Linked DNA regions of Homo sapiens. The protein of the gene in region 4 interacts with the protein of the main gene of each other region in a pairwise test. Each region holds a gene or a part of one and is shown on either strand. Other genes may lie near its edges. The genes, in order: USP20, EIF1AD, IPO13 and PBX4.

Region 1 (7,028 bases), on a different chromosome or scaffold from region 4:
TGACCCTTTGTTTTACTGCCCTAGGTGACAACATGTACAGCTGTGAGCGGTGTAAGAAGTAAGTGAGCCTTCCCCCGCCTTCTCCCTAACTGCCGTTTCTGTGCCCTACATATTCCCCTTGGGTTCCTGCAGAGAGCCCCCTATAATCCTGCCTTCCCAGAAGGGAGCCGGGTGGAGGGCTGCTTCCCTGGCCCCTGGCCCTGATGCCGGACACTGATGCTGGCTCGTGCTTCCTCCCCAGGCTGCGGAACGGAGTGAAGTACTGCAAAGTCCTGCGGTTGCCCGAGGTGAGCCAGTGGCCTCGGCAGCCTCCTCCTCAGCTATCTCGGGATGCACACCAGCACACACCAGGCAGGGGCTGAGCCTGCTCCACTGCTCGGGCACTTCTGTGCTGCAGGGGCCGTGGAGACTCCATAGCTTTGGCTGAGAAACCTCTGGGAAGGGTTGGCAGGGGGCACATTTTTCCAACTGTGACTTGGTGCCCTCTCTCGGTAGCCTCAGCACATGTTGTCTAACATGTTGTATGAGGGCCCAATGGGAGGCAGGTGTGTGGGACACTGGGTTACCACCCCCAGTGAGACAGCTATGGCTCCTGCCAGCTGCAGAGTGGCGGGAGGAGAGCTGGTCCAGCTGGGGCTGTTGCCAGGGGTCTTTCTGAGGAGTAACGTCTGAGTGGGGCCTGGAGGGTGTAGGCTGGTGTCAGCGTCGTGGATGGAAGGCACAGAAGGAACAGACAAAACCCCAGTGCAGGAGCAGGCTTGTCCGCACCAAGGAAGGCACGTGTGGCTGGAGCAAAGAGGAGAGGGCCCTGGCAGAGGGGGCCCAGGTTGGGGCTGTGGTGGCTCGGGGAGGCTTTGTGGCTTCTCAAAGGTAGTGCCGACAGAACTGGTAAACTTGATGGCTCATTGCAGCTCTTGGGGTCCAGTTCTCAGCAGTGGAGCTGGGAGTGATCTGTGTGACTTAGAGCGAGCCCAGTCTGGCCCCCACGTGGAACTCTTGGATTTGTTCCAATGGAGTCAGCTTGCATGATCCCATCAGCTGTCCTGGGCCCGTGGGCAAGGCTGCGAGGGCCCGCATCATTTCTTCCTAGATGACCGGCGCTCTCTCTGTCCCCGCAGATCCTGTGCATTCACCTAAAGCGCTTTCGGCACGAGGTGATGTACTCATTCAAGATCAACAGCCACGTCTCCTTCCCCCTCGAGGGGCTCGACCTGCGCCCCTTCCTTGCCAAGGAGTGCACATCCCAGATCACCACCTACGACCTCCTCTCGGTCATCTGCCACCACGGCACGGCAGGCAGTGAGTCATGTCCCCTCCCCTGCCGTCCCCATCCGCTAGGATCCCTGTGACCCGTCTGCTCTGCCGCCGCAGGTGGGCACTACATCGCCTACTGCCAGAACGTGATCAATGGGCAGTGGTACGAGTTTGATGACCAGTACGTCACAGAAGTCCACGAGACGGTGGTGCAGAACGCCGAGGGCTACGTACTCTTCTACAGGTGGGCGCTGGGCCAGGCCTGGTGGAGGAACCTCACCATCCCCGTCCCCTGGGACCCATGGGCCTTCTGGGTGTGTGTAGGGGACAGCGCCTGGATTAAGCCAGGGAAGTAAGGACTTGGATTGTTAAGAAACAGCCCTCTGGCTGCTGTGGGGAACCCAGGAAGGCAGCTTGGAGCCTTCTCCAGGGCCCTGGCTGGCGGCACAGGGGGCTGCTCACATGTCCAGGACCCGTGAAGGACCCAGGAGGTGGTGGACAGGGCCGGTAGCCCGAGGTGCACTGGGATGGGGGCTCTGCATGTGTCTGAAGGTGGCAGCCGTCAGGCACAGCTTCTCGCCCCCTCCTCACCCCACAGGAAGAGCAGCGAGGAGGCCATGCGGGAGCGACAGCAGGTGGTGTCCCTGGCCGCCATGCGGGAGCCCAGCCTGCTGCGGTTCTACGTGTCCCGCGAGTGGCTCAACAAGTTCAACACCTTCGCGGAGCCAGGCCCCATCACCAACCAGACCTTCCTCTGCTCCCACGGAGGTGAGGCGCCCCCTGTGGTGGGAGAGCAGGGTGGGCAGCTGGGCCGAGCCACAGCTTCGCTCCCTGTACCTTCTTCCCAGGCATCCCGCCCCACAAATACCACTACATCGACGACCTGGTGGTCATCCTGCCCCAGAACGTCTGGGAGCACCTGTACAACAGGTGAGAGCCTGGGAGGCCAACTTGTCTCCGTCCTGTCCAGGGCCCAGCTGGGCAGGAAAAGAGGGGAGGGCAGGGAAGGAATGCCACCAGGACCCCACACCACACTCTGGCCTCCACGTGGGCAGCACAGAGCCGCCTTCACTTGTCTCATGGAGAATGACACATGTCGTTTGTGGGAATCCGCTTGGATCCTTCCAGCGGCAAGGGACAGGAAACTGGCTGAAGCACAGCTGAGTGTGTTGGCCATCTGCTGAAGCACAGCTGAGTGTGTTGGCCATCTGCTCTTCAGCCTTGAAGCAGGACCTCCCTTGGGCTGTGGGCGCGCTGCTCCGTTGCAGGCTCTGTGGTGCTCACACAGAGGTGCATGCAGGCCTGCGACAGCGCTGAGGGGGCACTGATGGCTTGAGGGGGAAGTGGAAGGCAGTGATCACTCTCCCCTCCCTGGTACCCCGCTCAGGCCGTGTCTCTCTCTCCCACCCTGGGCACAGATTCGGGGGTGGCCCCGCCGTGAACCACCTGTACGTGTGCTCCATCTGCCAGGTGGAGATCGAGGCACTGGCCAAGCGCAGGAGGATCGAGATCGACACCTTCATCAAGGTGCGTGCGGCGAGGCGGCGCGGGGGCGGCTCTGCCAGCCTCTGCCTGGGGCAGCTGGGGACTTGGGGACAGAAGAATCCTGTGCAGTCCCTGAGCAAGTTTGAAAGCAGTCTTTTGAGGCTGGGCATGGTGGCTCACACCTGTAATCCCAGCACTTTGGGAGGCTGAGACGAACAGATCACTTGAGGTCAGGAGTTTGAAACCAGCCTGGCCAACATGGCAAAACCCCGTCTCTACTAAAAATACAAAAATTAGCTGGGCTTGGTGGCAGGTGCCTGTAATCCCAGCTACTTGGGAGGCTGAGGCAGGATAATCGCTTGAACCTGGGAGGCGGAGGTTTCAGTGAGCTGAGATTGTGCCACTGCGCTCCAGCCTGGGCAACCGAGTAAGACTCCATCTCAAAAAAAAAAAAAAAAGAAAAAGAAAAGAAAGGAGTCTTCTGCGGGGAACTAGATGGCCAGGTGTCTAGGAGGGCTTTTCCTGGTGGGAGGGTTGGCTTGAGTAAGTGAAGCCTCATCGCCCGGGTGCTGTTGAGCTTAAAGAACCAGTAGATGGATCCCATTCTCAGCCTTGGCTGTGTTATTTTGGGCTGAATTATTCTTTATTGTGGGGCCGTCCTGTGCATTGTAGGATGTTTAGCAGCATTCTTGGCCTCTACCCACTAGTGCTAGTGACAACCAAAATGACCTCCAGAGATTGCCCAGGGTCCCCTGGGGTGCAGAGTACCCTCCCTGCCCTGGGTGAGAACCACTGGGCTCTACAGACTGCCCAAGATAAAGCAGGAAGTGAAAACCAAGGTGCAAACCAGGACTCAAGTGTGACTGTGTTTAGAAGAGGGACTTCTGTGAGGGAGCTGAGTGCAGGCGAGGCTCCTGGCGCACTCCCTCCCTGCCACGCTACTTCTAACAGGGTTAGGACGTGTTCCACTCACAGGGAGGGCCTGGTGAGAGACACTGAGGGACGCCCGTGCTTTGTGGCCATTAGGAAATGATTCTGCTGCCTGGGCATGGTGGCTCACGCCTGTGATCCCAGCACTTTGGGAGGCCGAGGCAGGTGGATCACTTGAGCCCAGGAGTTCAAGACCAACTTGGCCAACATGGCGAAACCCCATCTCTACAAACAATACAAAAATTAGCCAGGCATGGTGATGTGTACCTGTAGTCCCCGCTACCTGGAGGGCTGAGTGAGTTGGGAGGATCACCTAAGCCTGGGAGGTTGAGGCTGCAGTGAGCCGTGATCATGCCACTGCACCGCAGCCTGGGCAATAGAGTGAGACCCTGTCTCAGAACACAAACGAAAAAGAGACTGTCAGGGCTGGGCCTAGTGGTATGCACCTGTGGTCCAACCTACTCAGGAGGCTGAGGTGGGAGGATCACTTGAGCCCAGGAGGTCAAGGCTGCAGTGAGCCATGATTGCGCCGCTGCACTCCCGCCTGGGCACAGAGTGAGACCACCCCCCATCTCGAAAAAGAAAATGCTCCTGTCAGAAGGAGAGCTGCCTCTCTGAGCAGATAGGCACATTCTATTCAACCGGAGAAAATTAGCATCTCCCAGGCCGGGCGCAGTGGTTCATGCCTGTTATCCCAGCACTTTTGAGAGGTCGAGGTGGGCGGATCACCTGAGGTCAGGAGTTCAAGACCAGCCTGGCCAACATGGCGAAACCCCGTCTCTACTAAAAACACAAAAAGTAGCCAGGTGGTGGCACACACCTGTAATCCCAGCTACTCAAGAGGCTGAGGTGGGAGAATCGCTTGAACCTGGGAGGCAGAGGTTGCAGTAAGCCGAGATCGCGCCACTGCACTCCAGCCTGGGTGACAGAGTGAGATTCCTTCTCAAAAAGTAGAATCTCCCTTGTGGTCTCAGTTGGGTCAAACAGTTATTGAAGAGACCCACAAAATGTTACCACCGTCCTCTCTGAGTGATGGGTGTGTTCATTTTGTTTGAGCTTGTCTGGGGGTTTGATTTTTCACCTTGAGTATCTGGTGTTTTTGTAAGACTCTTGGGTGAGGGACTGGGGCGGGGGCATTTGGGAAATCCTTGCTGAAGGTAAATAGAGACTGACCTGCCCTCTGTCTCCTCCCGTCCCTGCCCGCCTGCCAGTTGAACAAGGCCTTCCAGGCCGAGGAGTCGCCGGGCGTCATCTACTGCATCAGCATGCAGTGGTTCCGGGAGTGGGAGGCGTTCGTCAAGGGGAAGGACAACGGTGAGCTGAGGGGGGACCTGGCACTTACCTGCCCTGGGGGCCTCCTGGGAGATGGGATGCTGGCAGGGGAGGGCTGGCACACAGGGGCTCCTGCAGGCCCCATGCCTGCCCCCAGGTGCCACCCATCCAGGGTGAACAGAGAGCATGGGGCTTTGCCAGTCCCCAGTGGGGATCACTGTCCCCACCCAGAGGCAGGAAGCTGCTCCTGCTCTGCGCCCCCTGCCCTTCTCCACTCCCTGCCATGCCCAGCAAGCTGCTCTGCCCTCCTGCAAGGCCCTTTCCTCAGGGGAGTGTGTCGCCCGAAATGACAGATTTGTCATCTGACTCCTTGGATTTACAGAGGTGGAGACAGGCCCCATCACAAGCTCCCAGGGTCCCCCAAGTCCCCAGTGAAGAACAGCAGAACCAAGCCATGGAAGCCCACAGGCTCTAAACTATTAAACCTGCATTAAAAATTTCGGCTGGGGCGCCCTCGGGGCATAATCTAACCTGTGGCTCCGGGGCCCGGCAGGGTGGGTAGAGCCCACGGTTCTGCTCACGGGACCCTTGGTGTGGAGCATGAGCACCCACCTGTGCTTGGGAAGGGAGGCCTCATTGCCATCCCGCTAGTCGGGGAAGGTGCCAGGGCCACCGTGAGGCCTCTCTGGTGGTGGCTGAGGCCTTCAGCATGGCTGTGGTTGAGAATGTAGCTCCGGAGCCCTCGCCCTGGCCTGGACGCTGGCCTTGCCTTCTACCAGCTATGACCTGAGTGGTTACTTCACCTTCCCAGGCCTCGGCTCTGTCTCTGTAAACCTCTGTCTTGTCCTGTGGTTGCCGAGGCTAAATGAGATAGCTGGGCAGAGGGGAAGGGGCGTGGTGAGCGGCAGCTGCCAGCAGAGATAAGGGCATGGGCCATCCACCGCAGCTCCTGCGGCCAGCACAGAGTCTGAGACCATCTCGTGTGTCCTGGAAATTCCCTCTGCTGGGTCCTCAGACTGCCACAGAGGAGCATTGGGTGGCTCAGGCGCCTCATCCATTAGAGACTTCACGCTGACCCCCAGGCCTGGGGCGGCCCCACTTGGGATGGCTCTGCTGCTGTGGAGGGTGGAGGGCATGGCAGGGGCTGAACCCGAGCCCGCTGTGTCTGTTGCAGAGCCCCCCGGGCCCATTGACAACAGCAGGATTGCACAGGTCAAAGGAAGCGGCCATGTCCAGCTGAAGCAGGGTGAGTTCCCCCTGGGGTCAGCCAGGCTCCTCTCTGCCCTTCCTGGCTGCCAGGCTGCTGCCCAGTCCCGTCCTTCCAGGAGCCCCCTTACCACCTGTCTTAGAGTCAGGCTGAGACGTCCACCTGAGTCCAGACCCAGGCGGCTGAGAGATGGCCCAAGGGGCTTGGTCTCTGCTTGTGTCCTCCAGGTCCCACCCCTCTGCCTGCTGCTGGCCTTGCCCACCCTGCTGTTTATGTCAGCCCCACCCCCAGGAACAAGGGACACAGCCAGAGATGTGTTATCCGGGGCCCTTAGCGGGATGGACATTCCTCTGGGAAATCCTGATTTCCATCTGACAGCTTTGCATAGAAGCCCTGGTTGCCGTCTTCCCGCTTCGGGGCCTGGCCCTGCGGAGCCCCCACTGCCCAGGCCGGTGGCTTCCTTGAGGAGGCAAAGGTGAGCCTAGGGGTGCCTCTCGTGCCCTGCAGGAGCTGACTACGGGCAGATTTCGGAGGAGACCTGGACCTACCTGAACAGCCTGTATGGAGGTGGCCCCGAGATTGCCATCCGCCAGAGTGTGGCGCAGCCGCTGGGCCCAGAGAACCTGCACGGGGAGCAGAAGATCGAAGCCGAGACGCGGGCCGTGTGATCTGCTGGGCTAGTCTGTAAGTCGCCCCGGCTGGTCCCTCCATGGCACTCTGGGTCCTCTCCTCACTCTCCAGAGACCCTCACATGTCCTTTTGAACATCCAAAGAGCAGGTCCCTGAAAGCACCTTCCTGGAGGATGTGGGAGGGCCCTGGACATGGCCCGGCCCCACTGCTGAGTGCCCGTGTCCCCACAGCCCCATGTGCCCCACCCCG
Region 2 (7,006 bases), on a different chromosome or scaffold from region 4:
GTGGCAAAGCCAAGATTTTAACCCAGAGCATCTGACCTTCAAACCCCATTCATAACCATGTTATACCACATGCTTAGGAGCTCTCAACAGATACCCTATGTAAGGAGGAAAGAAGGCTCTATTTTTCCCTCAAGGCACCAAAGCATGAACCCCTTATTTTCCATGTACCCCACCCCAAGGCTTGTTCCTCACCTGTTCCTGTTGTTGTGTTTCTCAGCCACTTCAGAGAAGGCCTCAGGCCTATGCCAAGAGATGAGCCAAAGTCAGAAAGGACAAATAAATTTCTCACAAAAGAGCTGCTTCCAGCTGTGTCTGCCTGGGATGCCATGACCTTCCCTCCCCTAATTCCCAAGCTAGGAAGGCAATGCCTCCAGAAGCCAGACAGCCAATGATCAAGGGGACCACCTACCAAAACCCCTCCTTCTGCAGAGAGCGCACGTGGTCCTTGCAGAGCACAAACGAGATTTCAGCCTTCACCTTTTCTCCCTCTTCAATGGGGTCAACAATGAGAAAGTCCCCTGTAGATAAGAAGAGAAAAGGCAAAGTCAGGCCTGCTTGCAATAAGGAAAGCCAAAGCCATAGGAAGGGGTTCTATCTCCTAGAGAGGGCTGCCTCTCTCACCTCTCTCTTTTTTCTTTTTTTTGAGACAGGGTCTTGCTCTGTTGCCCAGGCTGGCAAGCAATAGCATGATCATAGCTGACTGCAGCCTCCACCTCCCAGGCTCAAGTGATTCTCAGGCCTCAGCCTCCTGAGTAGCTGGGATCACAGGCACGTGCCCAACTAATTTTTTTCTTTTTGTAGAGACAAGGTCTCATTATGCTGCCCAGGCTGGTCTCAAGCGATCCTCCCATCTCAGCCTCTCAAAGTGCCAGGATTACAGGAGTAATCCTCTCACCTCTCTTGATCCAGATGTTCTTGCGGTATTTGGAGGGCATGCTCACCAGGAAGCGCTGCCCTTGGGCTGTCTCCACCTCATGCAGATTGTTCCCTGGGGTCCTGAGTACCTGGTTCAGGAGAGACCAAGAATCAGTCTCATCAGTCAGATCAAACACCCTCTCAGACACGCTGCACCCTACCCCCACCCCAGGGGCCCTCCAGGGCTGCAGGGGTGGGGAGCAGAACAGCTTGTGCCCCACGCCACTCACCCTGACAATCTGCTGCTGGTCGGAGGGCACTATGTGCTCCCCTAGCACCTCCTTCACCACATGCTTCCTCTTGGTGGCCTGAGACATGCTGAAGTCGTCCCACACTGGTTAGGAACGAAGAGACTGTCAACTCCTCCTCCTGAGTTCCTTGGATGGCAGGCTCAGAACCCAGGACTGTTCTGAAGATGGGGAGGGGCCTTTTACTGAGGGGTGACACGGTGTCTTGGTTAAGAACATGGGTTCTGAAGTCTAACTGCCTGGATTCAAATCCTACCTTGGTTTATTTCCTAACTATTCAACTTCTCTAGGTCCCAGAAAAATAACAGCTAACTCAGCACTGTTACAGTATGGTATGAGGCCACCACTTCTCCTGTTGGCCTTCTTAGTTTCTCTCCAACCTCCCCTTTTCCCTAGTTTATAAGACAGGAGAAAAGGGAGAAAGCAAAAAGTTGGAAAGAAACAGAAGTAAGATAAATAGCTAGACGACCTTGGCACCACCACCTGGCCCTGGTGGCTAAAATAATAATAATATTATTAACCCCTGACCAAAACTACTGGTGTTATCTGTAAATTCTAGACATTGTATGAGAAAGCACTGTAAAACTTTTTGTTCTGTTAGCTGATGTATGTAGCCCCCAGTCACGTTTCTCACGCTTACTTGATCTATTATGACTTTTTCACGTAGACCCCTTAGAGTTGTAAGCCCTTAAAAGGGCTAGGAATTTCTTTTTCGGGGAGCTCGGCTCTTAAGACACGAGTCTGCCGACGCTCCCGGCCGAATAAAAAAACCTCTTCCTTCTTTAATCTGGTGTCTGAGGAGTTCTGTCTGCGACTCGTCCTGCTACAACAGAATGGGACAATACAATGCATGTCATGTAAAAGTAACTCCGGCCGGGCGCGGTGGCTCACGCCTGTAATCCCAGCACTTTGGGAGGCCGAGGTGGGCGGATCACGATGTCAGGAGATCGAGACCATCCTGGCTAATACGGTGAAACCCTCTCTCTACAAAAATACAAAAAATTAGCCGGGCGTGATGACGAGCGCCTGTAGTCCCAGCTACCCGGGAGGCTGAGGCAGGAGAATGGCGTGAACCCGGGAGGCGGAGCTTGCAGTGAGCCGAGATCGCGCCACTGCACTCCAGCCTGGGCGACAGAGCAAGACTCCGTCTCAAAAAAAAAAAAAAAAAAAAAGTAACTCCTATAATCTTAAGTACTAGTGTAATATAAAACTATACGCATGCTCCAGAGAAGTCATCCTGGCAACCTCTCTGGAAGGAGTTTGAAATAAACCGTATCTTTCTCAACACGCTTGTACACCCCAAGTCTAGCATAGTCACACAACAGAGAAGTTCAGTCTGGCAACACACTACAGCCGGAGACAAACTAGGTGGCCACCGTGATGGTTCAAGCCAGGAACTAGTTAATTAAAGGTTGAGGTGAGCAGGCTTGTCTGCGACATTTGCATATTTCTGACTTGCGTACTTAGAAGACGAAGGCCAGTACCCTTAAGACTGATGGTTTCCGAAAGAAACACTGTCGTCTCTAGTTGCTGTCCTCCTTCCTCCTCCCTGTCTATCCCGGAGAAAAGACCCTCAGAGAAACACCCACACTTAGTCTCTGGCCCTCGGCTCCCAGGAACGCTGCCGGAGCAACACCGCCGTCTAGGCTGGACGCTGAGAGAGGATCGTCCACGACTCACTTCAAGGCTGAACCAAGAAAACACAGTAAAGGAACTTGCCGGCGGCCGCGACGGTAGCGTCAGTTAGAAATCAGGTCTCCAGTGTTCCCAGTTCCCACCAGTCCAACTGCGAGGAGTGCGACGTGAGTCTGAGTCTGATCCCTCCGAAAACCGTACTTCCGGCGCTGTCTCGGAGGCCTCCCGTCCCCTCCCTTGTCCGTCTTCTAACTCTTCCCCACGCCAGGTCCGTCAAGCCTAAGTCCTTGAGTTCCGGGTCCGGGCAGCAGAGAAAGGAAGTCCTCTCCCTGGAGGCCTATCTCCCTCAGAACTGCGCGAGAAGCGAGACCTTAGAAGGCAGGGCTTCCCGCGAAGGACCGGAAAGGAGCGCCTACTAAGGACGCCGTCGAGGTCCGGGGCGCCTCAACTCTATAGCTCTAACTGGCTAGAAGTGCCCAACGTGGAATGTTTCTTTTTTAAAGGCGGCTCTTGAAGCGACCCGGAAGCGGAAGTGGAAGAAAGTTCTAGTGGCTTGAGGTATCCGCAGGAGCGGCCGGGTGGCGGGAGGAACCGTTACGGGAACTGAAGTTGCGGGTGAGCGCCAGCCGCGGAGCAGGGCCCTGATTGGAGGCCAGAGGGGTTGCGGGGAGAAGGGGAGGAGAGGGGTCGCAGGCGCTGTGGCGGGCCCTGGGGGAGAGCTTGGCCGCGCTGCGGGGAGGGGGCGGGGTGCAGCGCGTGGGAGCCGGGCCGCGGGAAGGGGCGGGCCGCAGCGGCGCGCGGTGGGGGCGGAGCTGGGGCGCGGCGTGAACCCCGCGGGCGGGGAGCGGGTGTGCGCAGCGCTAGGTGTGCGCTTCGCCCTGTAGGTAGAGAGACCCTTTGGTTAGCTTTCCACGCCAAGTGGCCGTTCCAGGCAGGCAGTGTCGTCTTGGTTCAGCCAAGGTCACAGAGGGAGTGATAGCTTCCGCGCAGCCCTGGCTACGGACTCTGGGCATCTTTCCACTGCCCCGCTTGCGCCACCTGTTAGGCAGGATCGTTTTTCCTCTGGGGCAAGATCAAAATCCAGGTCCTGCAGGAAGAAACTCCTCTTAAAAATAGTAGGGAAGAGTCTCCCTGGAACTGTTTTCTCCTTTCAGGATGAGGGGGATCGAGCAAGCCACTGTAACCCCTGGCTTGGCTTCCTCTTACTATGAGATTGCTCGTGGGCCCTTAGAAGTTCCAGGTCTTCAGCCCTAATCTGCCTTTTTTTTGGGATTCCTAGATTAAGCCTGATCAAGATGACAACCTCCCAAAAGCACCGAGACTTCGTGGCAGAGCCCATGGGGGAGAAGCCAGTGGGGAGCCTGGCTGGGATTGGTGAAGTCCTGGGCAAGAAGCTGGAGGAAAGGGGTTTTGACAAGGTGTGGGGTGGCTGCGTGTACCTAGTGCAAGCGGGGGGTGGAAGGGAAGTGATTCCATCTGCTGGGGGATGGACAGTAAGGTATAATCTGAAGAGGCTGCCAGAGCCTGGGCACCTGGTGGAGAGGAGAGGGGGGCAAAACCCGCGCTGCTTCCTGGGCTTGTGTGCTCTGAATGGCACAGGAATGGCTGTCTTGCTCTTATCTCTCACTGAGCACTGAGCAGCACGCTCCTTCCTTTTCCCTGTTTTGCAGGCCTATGTTGTCCTTGGCCAGTTTCTGGTGCTAAAGAAAGATGAAGACCTCTTCCGGGAATGGCTGAAAGACACTTGTGGCGCCAACGCCAAGCAGTCCCGGGACTGCTTCGGATGCCTTCGAGAGTGGTGCGACGCCTTCTTGTGATGCTCTCTGGGAAGCTCTCAATCCCCAGCCCTCATCCAGAGTTTGCAGCCGAGTAGGGACTCCTCCCCTGTCCTCTACGAAGGAAAAGATTGCTATTGTCGTACTCACCTCCGACGTACTCCGGGGTCTTTTGGGAGTTTTCTCCCCTAACCATTTCAACTTTTTTTTGGATTCTCGCTCTTGCATGCCTCCCCCGTCCTTTTTCCCTTGCCAGTTCCCTGGTGACAGTTACCAGCTTTCCTGAATGGATTCCCGGCCCCATCCCTCACCCCCACCCTCACTTTCAATCCGTTTGATACCATTTGGCTCCTTTTTTGGCAGAACAGTCACTGTCCTTGTAAAGTTTTTTAGATCAATAAAGTCAGTGGCTTTCATGACTGGGCTTTGTGCACTGAAAAGCAAGTGGGCTGGGAGTTGCCTCTCCTTCAGGGACTGACCATGTTTCCCTCACTCCTTATCAGTAGAGACCGAAACTGGCAGCTTCCCTTCCACTCCCAGAGGGCAGCCACCCTAGCCATGTAGGCCTCAGGCAGGTGACTTTTGTCTCAATCCCCGAGTGATGTGGGAGAGGGTGTGGGTGGATCTTTTCCTGGGAGCCAGATGGACTGTGCTCCAGATGTCAGTTAAGTCAACAGCTGGGCTAGGCAGCACCTGGTGGAAAAGTCAGTGGGAGTCAGAGGTACCAGACAGGGTGGGCCGGATGTGGGTGAGAGTTCACCTGCCAGTCATCATCTGCTCTCCCGGCCTCTGTAAGGGTGGGCAGGGTGCTTGCCATCTTCCATGATCTCTTAGGGAGGAGAAGGAGCACAGGCATCACAGCTGGAAGGATGTGAGGGGAGTACACCTCAGTACATTTTAGTCCTGTTCTTTTTGTTTACTTTTTAACTTAATAGGGACAGGGCCCTGCTCTGTTGCCCATGCTGGCCTTAAGCGATCCTTAAGCCTCCCAAAGCGCTGTGACTATAGGTGTGAGCCACCATACCCGGCCAGCCCTATTATTTCTTGAACACTTAGTATGAACCAGGCTTGAAGCTAAAATCTTTGCAAACATTTTTTTCTTTCACAGTAATAAATATTTTCTCCTTTACAGGTGAGGAAATTTGAGGCTCAGAGAGGCTAATTTGCCCATGGACTTGCTCCTGGGAAGTAGCCAGACTGGAACTCAAACTAGCTTGGAAACCCAGGGACCCGGCCATGTGTTCCTTGGTCATGTGGCTTAGCCTCTCTGAGCCTCAGTTTCTCCACTTGGAAAATGAGGTGGTTGTAGGGAAAGGATATTTGCAGCAGTATAAACAACAAAGGACTATTTCCATAGCACATACAGAATTGCAATCAAGAAAAAAGCGGACTGGCTGGGCGCAATGGCTCACGTTTGTAATCCCAGCACTTTCAGAGGCCGAGGTGGGTGGATCACCTGAGGTCAGGAGTTCAAGACCAGCCTGGCCAACATGGTGAGACCCCATCTCTACCAAAAATACAAAAATTAGCCGGGTGTGGTGGTGCACGCCTATAATCCCAGCTACTCAGGAGACTAAGGCAGGAGAATCGAACTTGGGAGGCAGAGGTTGCAGTGAGCCGAGATCACGGCCATTGCACTCCAGCCAGGGTGACCAGAATGAAACTTTGTCTCAAAAAAAAAAAAAAACAACAGAAAAATGGGTAAAAGATCTAAGACGGCCACAGAAGAGGGTTCCCTCCCAGTAAATAAGCACAGGAAAGGTGCTCCATATTGCTAGTAATAAGACATCACATGCCATTAACACCCACCTGACTGGCAAACACTTTTAAGTTGGACAATACCAAGTATTGATGAGATAATGAAGCAACAGGAACTGATACCTAGCTGGTGGGAGTATAAATTGGTCTAAACAATTTGGGAAGACAGTTGGGTGTTATTTAGTAAAACTGACACGCCCTGTGACCAAGCAGTTCCACTCTCAGGACTGTGCCTTGAAGAAAGTCCCGAACACCTGCAGCAGGACCTAGATGAGTTTGCAGCTGCATTGTTGGGAGCAACGCTAGCGGCTGTCAATACTAGAGTAGATAAATAGGCACTCATGCCACCGGACACTGGACGGAGGTAAAAATGAACAAATGATAGTTGTGTACAACACGAATCTCAATAGCAAATGAAGACAAACAAATTCTTAGGAATTCCTACATAGATGGTAAAACTAGAAGGAAAACAAAGGAAATGATTATGGTAAATAGTAAAGGAAAAAGTCTACAGGGATTATCTTTGGGGGAGGGTGTGGAAGGGCTTAAGGGTAGGCTTGGCCTACCCTGACCTGTGTTTCTGACCTATGGGGTGGTGGTACAGGCATTGACCAAAAGTGTATGTTCTGCGCCCTTTTCAGTGTATTCGCTACATCTCAACAATAGAAAGATAAC
Region 3 (7,028 bases), on a different chromosome or scaffold from region 4:
GTAAATTCGGAACTGCTCCTTCTCGTCTGAGGACCAGAATCCATATTCCTCATCAGAAGGGAACTGGGCCTTGTGCAGAAGCACATCCACCAGCTGGAAGTAGACTGGCCGGTACACCTGCTGGTATACAGCCTGCTTCTCTGCCTCAAAGGATAGAATATCATCCTGAGAGAGCCAGGGAAGAGAATTAGCCACCTCACCAGCAGTCATAGAAGCCCATGATCCACCTTCTTCCACCACAGCCCAGTCCTACTGGAGGTCACACAGACACACCTGCAGTGTGTACCAGAAGGTGAGGGTTAGGGAGCTGGTGGTCTCATTGACAGGATAGTGGCCAGGGATGCCTGTGCAGAACATAATCATGTTGACGAGTGCCAGGAAACTCTGCCAGTGCTCTACTTGGTCCAGCAAGGCCCTGGGGAGAGAGTCAGGTCATTCTACCTTTCCAGGGACTTCCAGAACCCCATTTCTTAGAGGGCCCTACTATCCCACCCCAAGCTGCTCCACCCTTTACCGGGAGTGGTTCTCGCCCAGGGCCACAGCGATGCGACAGATGCCATGGGAGGTCTCCATGTCCCCATTCTGCACTGCCTGCCGCAGTTGTTCCTGCAGACCCAGCACCAGCGGGATGAGTTTCAGGAGTGTGTTCACGTACCTAGAGGCATGAGGTGAGAAAATCCATCAGAGCTCTCTGCTCAACCCCACACTGGCTTTAAGAGAAAGGCATAATCTCCTTGTCTTCCATCAAAGCTCCCCTTCCCTTATCAAATCCTAAGCAAAAAAAGGGTCAGGGTCTACATGGCAGATTTGATGTTCCCAATGTTGGGAAGAACCTTAGATCAGGGACCCCCAGAAGAACTCTGAGAAGGACGTATGAGAAGGTCAGCATTATGGGTTGAATTGTGTTCTCCAGTTGGACTGAGAGCTGATTCCGGAATGGGTTAAGATTTTTTTTTTTTTTTTTTTTTTGAGATGGGGTTTTGCTGTGTTACCCAGGCTGGTCTCGAACTCCTGAGCTCAAGAGACTCAGCCTCCTGCTCAGCCTCCAGAGTAGCTGGGATTACAGGTGGAGCCACCACATCCAGCTAGGTTACAACTTTTGGGGAGATTGAGATGAAGTGAATATATTTTGCATGTGGGGATAACATGAAGTTTGGGGCACCAGAGGGCAGACTGTCATGGGTCAAATTAAGTCCCCACAAAAAGATACATTTTTTGATAAATCTTAATCCCCAGTACCTCAAAATGTGATCTTATTTGGAAATAAGATAATTGCAGATGAGGTTATACTGGAGTAGGATGGACCTGAACTCCAATATGACTGGTGTCCTTATAAGAAGATATCTATGTGAAGACAGAGACATACAGGGAGAATGCCACGTGAGGATGAAAGTAGAGAGTGGAGTGATCCAGCTGGAAGCCAGGGAACACTGAAGACCGCCAGCAAACCACAGAGCTAGGAAGAGGCAAGGACGGAGTCTCCTACAGGTTTCAGAGGGAGCACAGCCTTGCCAACACCTTGATTTCAGACTTCTATCCTTCACAATTGTGAGACAGTTAATTTCTGTTTGGCTTTAAAGCCACCTAGTTTGTGGTACTATGTTATGGTAGCCCTAGGAAACTAATACAGTCTGTCAGGGGTGATTGAACAAGAGTGGGATACAGAAGAGTAAACACAGGCTCATAAGCCCTGATTTAAAAAAAAAAAAAAGACTTTGGAAGGCAGCAACAGCTCATGAGAGCATCAATCCCTGCCATCCGCTCCACCCTCTACCACCAAATCCCAACTCTTGAGGAGTGTGGTGGCAGCAGGGAGGAAGAGAAGTAGACAATGAACTCAGAGAGAGCTAAGAGGCAAAACAGACAGGACTTGATGACTGACTGGATATGAGGAAGGAGAAGAATAAAGACACCTCTCAGGTCACTGGCTAAACAACTAAGTAGACGGTGGAGCTATTTACTGAGACCTGTGGGGTGAGTAGCGGGGAACAGTAACACCTTTAATGGGAGGTGGAAGGTGATAAGCTCAGTCTTAGACAAGTTGATTCAGAGACACCTGATAGGTTATGCAGGCAGAAGCATCTAGAAAGAGTTGGATATAAAAGCCTGAAGCCCAGCATAGAGGTTAGAGCAAAAGCCATAGATTTGAGAGTCATCAGCTAACAGCTGGTAATTGAAGTTATGGGAATAGATGAGAATTGCCCAAGGAGAAAGTGTTGAATGAGAAAAAAATAAGAGGGTCCAGATCACAGCCCTGAAACACAATGATCTCTAAAGGAGAAGGACAGACAGCCCAGTATACAAAGGGGACTGAGAGAAGCCTGGCTCAGCCCACTGGATCCCTCTCCAGCACCTTGGTCTGTGGAGATGAGACTAAGCAGAGGAAGCCACACTCTAATAGCGGGGATCAGATGCTTGGGACCCCTCTGTTGTCAATCATAGTGTCACCATAGCAATCTATGTTAGGGAGTTGGGGACTGAGGATCCCAGAGGGAGTTCTATCTGGACTTGCCCCAAGCAGGTTGCTAGGCAGTAGCCTCATATCCTTGGTGGGAGGATGAGAAGGACAAAAAGAGGCAACCAGCCTAGGGACATCGGCCTCCTTCTCCACATCCCCATTCTGGTAGGAAAAGTCACCCATGCCAGGATATCCCCAGCCCAGAGACAGCCCCAGGGGGTGCTGCCTGGAGACAGCCGGGATAGCTTCAGTCTCCTGACCCTGACACGGGCTGCACCACCAGACAATGGGCATTTTCAGGCCAGACTCTGGCACAAAGAGAAGGGGCAGGGCCAAGGCTATGGCCCACAAGCTCCTCAGCAGCTGAGATGGGTGCAGGAGGTAGCGCTCTACTCCCATAGCTCCCCACTGTATTCTAAGACTCCTTCCTCCACCTGCCAAAGTTCATGCAGATGGCAGGGTACTCGGCAAATGTTCTTCATTTGTCTCATCTGAGCCTCAAAATAGGACAAATCAAGGATAATACAGCCTCAAAGAGCTCAGAGTATCATATCACTCAAGGTCATACAACAACTTAGAAGCAGAATCCAGGTTGAAACTGCCCCTTAAACTGCTACAGGTCTGCTTTTCTTTCAGGGCCCAACCAGAATTTCCCCAAAGGATTTATGTACGTCTCAGCCCATATCTCCAGTCCTAACTGATGGGAGCCCCCAAGAGCCTGCCTAATTCACTTTCCCTCCATCCCCAACTCCCAAGGACAAGCTTTTCCAGCATTAAAAACATAGTTCAGGAAAAAAAAATACATTTCAAAGGAGAGAGCCAGGAAGCAGCAGCAGCTGTGGAGGGGCAGGAAAAGGGTGACTTGAGTGCAAGCTCAGCCAAGGGGAGGGCCAATGTCAGGACACCTGGGGAAGGCGTGCCTGGATGACCCAGGAGTCAAAGTCACTGAAGGTGACTTTCACAAGCCAAAGCTGGGAAATTAGACTGGGGAGAGCAAGGGCCAGGCTCGGATTCTGGGCTGGATGCAGCTCACCCATGGGAAGAAGTTCTTGCATAAATTTCCTACCACCTGAGCACCTGTGTCTGCGACCTGTGAGTGGACAGAAGAACAAGTCTGAGGTCCCAGAGGTTTCTAGGTTTGGGGGAAGGAGACAGGGAGGATGTCTTTATGACCACAGCTGAGGCTGGGTTCAAGAGGCCTGGCTCCAATCGGTCAGTTCAAGTAGCCGAGGCAGGGCTGCTGGGACTCCTCTGCTGCTGCTCACACGGAGCTCAGCCCAGACCTGCAATTAGAGCTTTGCTTCAGGAGCAGAGCTGAGAAAATGGGGAGAGTTGCTAAGCAACCAAGGGGCTGCAGCCAATGGGCACCAAGGAGGCTGTGGGTTACCTCACTGGCTCCTTGCTCGCTCATTCGTTCAGAGGAGAAGGGGCATCAATTACCTGCCAAAGCCCTTGAGACTGGCTGGGCGGGTAAACTTGGGTGTATCCAAGGACACCTCACATCACCCACACACTTGCCCTGATCTGTTTCCCTTAGTCACCAACTGTCAGAGCCCACCCAGCACTTGAGCTTCAGGCTGCCAAGAGATCTGGGATTAGGTATCCACCTTAAGCTGGAAAGCCTGGGAAGCCAGGGGATAAGTATCATAATAACTCCCAACACAATAATGAAACCAAATACTGGCAACTGCCGTTTACAGAGTATATAGGAACCATGCTAAAAGCTTCACATTCTCTTATTTAATCCTCATACCGAAACAATCTTTTATTTTTTAAAATCAACCCAATATTTTATTTAAAGTTTCAAAAGGCAGTGATTAAGCACATTATCTATGTGTGTGTGTGTATCATATACATATAAATATATGTATGTATACACACACATATATATATAGGAAACCAACTCCTTTTCAAATTTAGCCACTGAACAACTAGGCCCACTTTCTATTGCATGATTCCAGTTCTACTTCTTATGACCAGTACTAAAAGTAAACAGCCTTAATCCATTTAATAGTAACTATGTTTCTCTTTAAAAAAATGAACAGTTGGCCAGGCATGGTGGCTCATACCTGTAATCCCAGCACTTTGGGAGGCGGAGGCAGATGGATCACCTGAGGTTAGGAGTTCAAGACCAGCCTGACCAACATGGCAAAACCCCGTTTCTACTAAAAATACAAAAATTAGCTGGGCGTGGTGATGCACGCCTGTAATCCCAGCTATTCTGGAGGCTGAGGCAAGAGAATCGCTTGAACCCGGGAGGCGGAGGTTGCAGTGAGCCGAGATTGTGCCACTGCACACCAGCCTGGGTGACAGAGTGAGACTCTGTCTCAAAATAAATAAATAAACAATTACCATTAACTGATCACATAAAGTATAAAGGTAGAACATATACACACAGTTCCCATTTTAAAACATGTAACGTATCAATAACCCAAAGGTACAAATGCATGCTACTGACCATCCCAACCCTAGCAGAGACCACAAAAGAACTCCCATTACTCAAGGAGTCAAAATATTCTCTACCGAACACCAGGGGCAGGACTTGTGCACATTATCCTGTTTAAACCTTTTCAACTCTGTGGGGTTGATATGATCATCCCCATTTTATTGATGAGGAAACGGAGCCTTAGGAATGGCTGATCCAAGATTTCAGATCTAATAAGTGAACCATCTGGGATTCAAACTTAGATGTGACTAATGCCAAGGCTTGAGTCATCAGCCACTCTTCCATGAAGTCTCTTTCAATGGTTTTCCCTTCCAATTCTGCCAAAGGTCCCAAAGCCCCATCTCTGAAATGTCAGCATCAGGACCTCCAGTCTCACTTCTTCTAATCCAGCTCATACCAAAAGTCTCAGTAGGCCATTTTCTCTGCTTATAATCCTTTAATATCTTTATATCGTCTTCAGGATGAAGATCAAAATCTTAAACTTGGCCAAGGTCCTGCATGATCTGGGCCCAGGTCTCCTATACCTCTGGCCCTTAAATCTTGCTGTCTAATCACATCTAATGATTTACAGATCACCAGACCCTCTGGGCTTTCACCCTTCCCTTGCTTGGGCTGGAATGTCCTCCCCATCCATCACTTCCATCTGGCTAACTCTTACACAGCTGGGTTGTCACTTCCTCTGCGAATCCTTTCACAGCCCTCAGACTCAGTGAAAGCCTCCTCTGGGTTCTTCAAGGCCCCTGCGTTCTCCATCAGAGGATTCATCATGTTGATTGTACTTGCCACTCATGTGTCCACTAGACTGTGAGCTCCTGAGACTGAAGCTAAAGCATTTGTCTCTGTGCTCCCAGAGCTCAGCACAGGGCCCAAAACAGGACATGCTCAATGAACATTTGCCAAACACTTCACTACACTCACTTCTTTAGGGCCCTTGAATATATCATGATGCTGCCCACAAGTCTTTGCACATGCTGTGGTTCCTAAAGCCTAGAACAATCCACCTTCCTCCCCCAATCCCTTCCAGCCCCACCCCTCCCAACTCAGGCAACTCCTACTTTCCTCCATTCACAAAATATCAAATGCTACCATGTGCCGAGCACAATGCGACAAAGTAAAATGACAGAGTCCCTGTCCTCACAGAGGTGAGAGAAATCATGTTATGGGCTAAGAAGGAAAAATACTGGGAGCTCTGAGGTAATATAAGAGAGAAGATCAAACTTAGCCTTAAGAATCCATGGAGGACTTCCCTATGGAAATGAAGTTTAAGCTGAGGCAAGGTGTCAAGTATATGTAATGAGCCAGAGGCTGAAAGGAACATGGGACATTCAAGGAATTAAAGAAACTGTGTGAGCGTGTAGAGAGCAAGGAGAGTAGCATGAGATGAGGCCAGTGATGCCATACTGTGCAGCACCATTATGAGTCACATTAAGGATTCTGAGCTTTAACCTAAGAGCATTGAGAAGCCACTGAAAGCTTCTGATCAGAAAGATTAGATCCCCATTTTCAAAAGATCACTGTGGCTGCTGGGACAATGAAGGGTACAAGAGTGAGGACAAGCTCTACAGTAATCTGGGGAGAGAGATGATGACAGCTTGGACTAAGGTGGTAGCAATGGAAATGGAAAAAAATAGATTTGCAATATGGTCAGGAGGGGAACAGCCAGGACTTGGTGACTAGTTGAGAGAAGGAAAAGAGAGTCAAATATTTTAATTGAATAACTGATAATTAGTTGTTTAATGTCTGCCTCCCTGTCTGAACCATGAGGACAGGGACCATGTCTTCTTTGGTTCCTTGCTGTATCTCCAGCATAGGACCAGGTATCAGTACACATTCAATTAATGTTTATTGAACAGATGGATGGATGGATGTGTGGCTGGCCAAAGAGGTTGTCTTCTGGGTGAGTGGGTACTAGCTCACCTCTGGGCATCAGGCTGTGAGATGGCATTCACAATGGCCTCCACACTGCTGTCGAAGAGCTCCGAGTCCTGCAGAGCAGCAAAGGCAGCCTGAATGAGCGCCTCACAGTCCTGCAGCGGCACCTCCAGCTGCACCCAGCTGGAGAAACACTTGAGCACCTTCTGACGCACACAGCTGGGTGAGCTGGGCTGCTGTAGCAGCTGCTCC
Region 4 (5,503 bases):
AAAAAAAGTACAAAAATTAGCCAGGCTTGGTAGCACGTGCCTGTAGTCCCAGCTACTGGTGAGGCTGAGGCAAGAGAATCACTTGAATCTGGGAGGCAGAGGTTGCAGTGAGCTGAGATCGCACCGCTGCACTCCAGCCTGGGTGACAGAGTGAGAAAAAAATGTTTGAAGTAGCAAAGGTCATCCACAATCCTCTTCCATCCCTCAGCTGTTTCATTTCTGTGTGTTATTATACTATACGTTTATTTTACTTGCTTTGGGATACTGAAATGTGGCCCTGGATGGACGTCTCCATGCCTGTAGGAAGGCGCTGGCCCTGGGGTGCTCACCCATGTGAATCTGCCCAGGGGACATTTTTGTTGTCACGACTAGAGAAGGGAAGTGCTCCTGGCACCCAGTGGGTGCCAAGGATACCGCTCAGCACCCTGCAGTGTACAGGACAGCCCCCACAGAGCAGATGGAGCCCAAGCATCAGCAGTGCCACCAAAGGTGACAAGCCCCTCCCTGGGGGACTCCAGTGCCAGTTTGCAGTCAGAGCTGGGCTGATTCCACCTTGGCCATGGACTAGCTCCTTTTTCTCCTGCCTCTGCTTTCTTACAGCAGGGACGATAACAGCTGCCTCCCAGGTCCTCATGAGGATGAGGCAGAATGATATATGAGGCTGGGCCTGGAATCCCAGCATTTTGGGAGGCCAGGGCGGGAGGAACTCTCAAGCCCAGGGGTTTGAGACCAGCCTGGGCAACAGAGCGAGACCCTATCTCTAAAAAAAAAGAAAAAATATATTTTTTTTTCTGAGACAGGGTCTCACTCTGTTGCCCAGGCTAAATTGCAGTGCGATCTTGGCTCACTGCAACCTCTGCCTCCCAGGTTCAAGTGATTCTCCTGCCTCAGCCTCCCGAGTAGCTGGGATTACAGGCATGTGCCACTGTGTCCAGCTAATATTTGTATTATTAGTAGAGATGGGGTTTCTCCATGTTGTCCAGGCTGGTCTCGAACTCCTGACCTCAGATGATCCCCCCACCTCAGCCTCCCAAAGTGCTGAGATTACAGGCGTGAGCCACCACGCCCGGCCAAAAAACCTTTTTTTAATTAAAATTAAGAAAAATATATGAATATATGAGAAGTGCTTATCCTAGCACCTGGTACATTCCAACTACCCCTTCAGAGTTCACCTTGTTTTCATTTGATAAGTTTGGGATTCGATCGCAGTTACTGGGTCCCCAGGTCTCCCTGGCTCTCACTTTTCCTGAAGAGAACACGGAACGTAACCTGCCGCCTGCTGCATGGCAGCCAGAGGCGCTGTCCCTCCCGGCCCACCTCAGACAGTCTTGTTTTCCTTCCAGCCCCTTCCCAGGTTCAGGTTCCAGCAACATCCAGTTTTAGGCAGCAGAGTTCTAAGACACGCCAGCTCCAGGGTGTCCTCAACCCATGTGGACATCTCCCTGGGTCCGTGGTTCAGAGGGCGCCACCTTCTCAGTCCCAGACTCTTCATAGCCCCAGGGTGCAGTGTTGTCTTCTAAGGCAGTGGGAGCAACGGGCACCCCAGGGAACCCACAGACTGCGTCGTGTCTCAGAAGTCGCTGGGTCAGCTCCTCCAGTGACTCCTGTGTGTCCGCAGGTCTCTAACTGGTTTGGCAACAAAAGAATCCGGTATAAAAAGAACATGGGGAAGTTTCAAGAAGAGGCTACCATTTACACGGGTAAAACGGCTGTGGATACCACGGAAGTTGGGGTCCCAGGGAACCACGCCAGCTGCCTGTCAACACCTAGCTCCGGTGAGTGAGGCTGGCCCAGGGACAGTCATCTGTACCCATGTGGACGGCCACTGAGCTGCATCTGGGGAGGCCACAGTGGGACCACATCTCCCTTCCCCCAGTGGTCAACTCTGTGTAACTCTTTCTTCTGTTTCAACTGTGAGAGTTCTGTTCCTCTTGGCCATGATCCCAACCAACAGATACCTGTGCTTTGGGGACAGAATGGCGATACTAATAAGAAAAGACATGAAAGGTCTGGGTGCGGTGGCTCACACCTGTAATCCCAGCATTTTGGGAGGCCAAGATGAGTGGATCACCTGAGGTCAGGAGTTTGAGACCAGCCTGGCCAACATGGTGAAACCCTGTCTCTACTGAAAATACAAAAAAAATTAGCCCGGCATGGGCTGGGTGCAGTGCCTCACACCTGTAATCCCAGGCCGAGGCGGGCGGATCACGAGGTCAGGAGATAGAGACCATCCTGGCTAACACAGTGAAACCCCATCTCCACTAAAAATACAATTCACAATAGCAAAGACTTGGAACCAACCCAAATGTCCAACAATGATAGACTGGATTAAGAAAATGTGGCACATATACACCATGGAATACTATGCAGCCATAAAAAATGATGAGTTCATGTCCTTTGTAGGGACATGGATGAAACTGGAAATCATCATTCTCAGTAAACTATCGCAAGAACAAAAAACCAAACACCGCATATTCTCACTCATAGGTGGGAATTGAACAATGAGAACACATGGACACAGGAAGGGGAATATCACACTCTGGGGACTGTTGTGGGGTGGGGGGAGGGGGGAGGGATAGCATTGGGAGATATACCTAATGCTAGATGACGAGTTAGTGGGTGCAGCACACCAGCATGGCACATGTATACATACGTAACAAACCTGCACATTGTGCACATGTACCCTAAAACTTAAAGTATAATAATAATAAAAAAAAAGAAAGAAAAAACAAATTATCTGGGCGTGGTGGTGGGCGCCTGTAGTCCCAGCTACTTGGGAGGCTGAGGCAGGAGAATGGTGTGAACCTGGGAGGCAGAGCTTGCAGTGAGCCAAGATCGTGCCACTGCACTCAAGCCTGGGTGACAGAGCGAGACTGTCTTAAAAAGAAAAAAAAAAGACAAGCCATGAGGGGACATGAGTAGTGTGGTGGGGAGGGCCCGCTGGCCTGCCTGGGTGGGGGCTGAGGAGCAGAGGCCGGATGCTGAGGAGGGGCAGGAGCCACATTCGAGGCCTCCTGCCGGCTGAGGGGCTGGGTGGGTTCCACCTGAGGAGGCGCCACGACTCTGCCCACCCCGGCTCCCATCTCTTCCAGGCTCCTCTGGACCCTTCCCGCTGCCCAGCGCTGGGGACGCCTTCCTCACCCTGCGGACTCTGGCCTCTCTCCAGCCTCCTCCTGGGGGAGGCTGCCTGCAGTCCCAGGTGAGTCTCAGGCACTGTCCCACAGCGCCCAGGTGGGTGGTAGGTTCTCAGAAAGGGTCGTCTTGTCAGCCACCCCTCGGCCTTGGGGCAGCTTCCCCAGAGGTCCCAGCAGCCACACAGGCCATGCTGCGCGGCCACCTCTGGGGCACAGCTCTGCAGGGCCCCACTCTGTAATGACTGTGCCCTCCCCCACCTCCACTTGTCACCACGGCAGCCGCTGGGAACAGTCAGTGGGGATGAACCCCAAGATGAGGGCTTTGGCTGTGGAGGGGAAGGGCACCTCCTAGAGGACTGTGGGAGGACATGGTGTCCTTCCCTCGAGAGGGAGGGGCAGGCAGCCAGCAGAGGAGGCCGGAGGAGAGATGGGGCCTTCCCTCGGGCTCAGACCTCAGTGCCGCAGCTTGGCTGGGAAGGCAGCGAGTGGGGACCGTCTTGAAGACACTGAGGAGGCCCAGGTGTCATGTGCCCAGCACAGGCACGAGGCTGTGTGTGTGGTGTGTGCCAGGGCACTGCAGAGCCGGGTGCCCCTCCCAACTCACCACTCTCTCCCAGGGGTTCAGAGAACGGATGCCTCCTGTGCTGTCTGTGGGGTCCCACCTGGTCCTGGGAAGCACACGTCCCACACTGTCCTGCTGTGGCAGCTGCCCCCCATCACCATGCAGCCCCCAGCCAGGGACACACGTGAGGGGCCTCACCTTGCCCTTTGCACCCCTGGGACCTGACTACGCGCCAGCAGCTGTGTGTCCACCCCAGTTCAGAGCAGAGTGCCCCCAGGTGGTGCACCCGTCTGAGCTGCTCCCACACTCACGGGCAGAGCAGTCCCAGCCACTTCCTTAACCTGTACCGTGCCCACCATAGTGGGGGTGGGTCCTGTGGACAAACGTCTTAGCGCCGTTGGACGTGATGCCGTCTCTGCACTGCAGACAGAGCCCCCACCCCTTATGACAAGTGGTTGCCTCCCACCCTCCTTGCTGCCCAGCCAGGCCAGTGTTGGGCCAGGTTTCAGAGCCCCTTTTTCCCACCGAGTCTCACCATGACGCTCCGGGCGTCATCATGGGCTCCAGGCCTGACCTTGCCTCCCTGCCCCTCGCCGGGCAGGAGCCCTTGTTGTACCCGATGCCAGTCAGTCCTTTGCCTAAGCCCCAGGGAAGCCACTAGAGGCCAGTTTTCCTGCCGGGGAAGCTCGTCCATGTCCCATGTCAGGTGGCAAGGCCAGCTGTGACCCAGGACCGACCCCTCCATCCCTTCCCTCCTCCACTGAGCTGGAGGTCATCTGTGGATCTTTTCCAAGCCTTCCCAGGGACCCCTGGAGGCTCCGCCTGCAGCACGTGGGCTGGGTAGTCACCAGTCTCACGGCCACCCACTCTGATGCTCAGTCTCTGTCGTTTCAGGCCCAGGGTAGCTGGCAGGGGGCCACCCCCCAACCTGCAACTGCCTCACCTGCTGGAGACCCTGGCAGCATCAACTCCAGTACATCTAATTAAGTTTGGGGGATAAGCAGGAAAGAGCGCTGCGTGAGCTGCCATGTATCGCCAGCCGTTGCTTTGTTACTGAACGTGCCGCCGACGACCTCAGAAAACCCAGATGGGTGGTGGTGCCCATGAGCCCCTGCTCCTCAGCCAGGCCCGTGGCGCCGGCTCATGTGTCTGCTGCGACTCGAGATGGCCTGAAACGCCACTCATTCTCCCACTTCAGTTCGTTTTTTTGACAGTAATTTTATGGTAACGCTATGAATTGAATTGTCTGTTCTAGGACTGGGCACAGATTTTCCCATTAAAATTTTTGACTTATTTTAATTCCGATGTCTGTTTGCCAGATTTGTTTTGGGTGGTAGTTGACACCGGTCACAGCTGCAGTGTCATGTGTGCTGTGATTTTGCCACTCACCTGCGCCGCTCAGGCACAGACTCCCAACACTGTCTTCTGTGGGACCGTATCATTCTGTTCTGATTTTAAAATGTCCTGGCTGGGAGCAGTGGCTCATGCCTGTAATCCCAGCACATTGAGAGGTCGAGGTAGGAGGATTGCTTGAGCCTAGGAGTTTGAGACCCGTCTGGGCAACATAGTGAGACCTCGTCTCTACAAAAAAATTCTGCTTTCAGATTTTTTTTTTTTTTGGGGGACAGATTCTCGCTCTGTCACCCATGCTGGAGTGCAGTGGTGTGATCTCGGCTCACCACAACCTCTGCCTCCCAGGTTCAAGCGATTCTTCCGCCTTAGCCTCCCAAGTAGCTGGGATTACAGGTGCCTGCCGCTATGCCCAGCTAATTTTTTGTATTTTTGGTAGAGATGGGGTTTCACAATG

The links.
Region 1: the proteins of PBX4 (region 4) and USP20 interact in binary tests that used the Homo sapiens proteins (3 or more experiments, as listed by UniProt).
Region 2: the proteins of PBX4 (region 4) and EIF1AD interact in binary tests that used the Homo sapiens proteins (3 or more experiments, as listed by UniProt).
Region 3: the proteins of PBX4 (region 4) and IPO13 interact in binary tests that used the Homo sapiens proteins (3 or more experiments, as listed by UniProt).

The regions. Positions count from the first base shown.
Region 1 is NC_000009.12:129,873,458-129,880,485, forward strand, and holds part of USP20 (ubiquitin carboxyl-terminal hydrolase 20), read left to right. Parts: intron 1-24; coding exon 25-58; intron 59-241; coding exon 242-287; intron 288-1,118; coding exon 1,119-1,299; intron 1,300-1,371; coding exon 1,372-1,498; intron 1,499-1,852; coding exon 1,853-2,022; intron 2,023-2,102; coding exon 2,103-2,184; intron 2,185-2,672; coding exon 2,673-2,781; intron 2,782-4,880; coding exon 4,881-4,983; intron 4,984-6,115; coding exon 6,116-6,187; intron 6,188-6,655; coding exon 6,656-6,816; 3' UTR 6,817-6,832; exon of another isoform or gene 6,833-7,009; 3' UTR 7,010-7,028.
Region 2 is NC_000011.10:65,999,158-66,006,163, forward strand, and holds the start of EIF1AD (probable RNA-binding protein EIF1AD), read right to left. Parts: upstream 3,001-7,006; 5' UTR 2,753-3,000; exon of another isoform or gene 2,648-2,752; intron 1,349-2,647; 5' UTR 1,233-1,348; coding exon 1,146-1,232; intron 1,005-1,145; coding exon 896-1,004; intron 519-895; coding exon 410-518; intron 241-409; coding exon 193-240; intron 1-192. Other genes in the region: BANF1 (barrier-to-autointegration factor), read left to right, coding at 4,094-4,216, 4,469-4,615.
Region 3 is NC_000001.11:43,949,947-43,956,974, reverse strand, and holds part of IPO13 (importin-13), read right to left. Parts: coding exon 6,822-7,028; intron 3,513-6,821; exon of another isoform or gene 3,492-3,512; intron 656-3,491; coding exon 515-655; intron 416-514; coding exon 274-415; intron 166-273; coding exon 1-165. UniProt on the Homo sapiens protein: Functions in nuclear protein import as nuclear transport receptor. Serves as receptor for nuclear localization signals (NLS) in cargo substrates.
Region 4 is NC_000019.10:19,561,205-19,566,707, reverse strand, and holds the end of PBX4 (pre-B-cell leukemia transcription factor 4), read left to right. Parts: intron 1-1,618; coding exon 1,619-1,775; intron 1,776-3,092; coding exon 3,093-3,199; intron 3,200-4,590; coding exon 4,591-4,683; 3' UTR 4,684-4,995; downstream 4,996-5,503.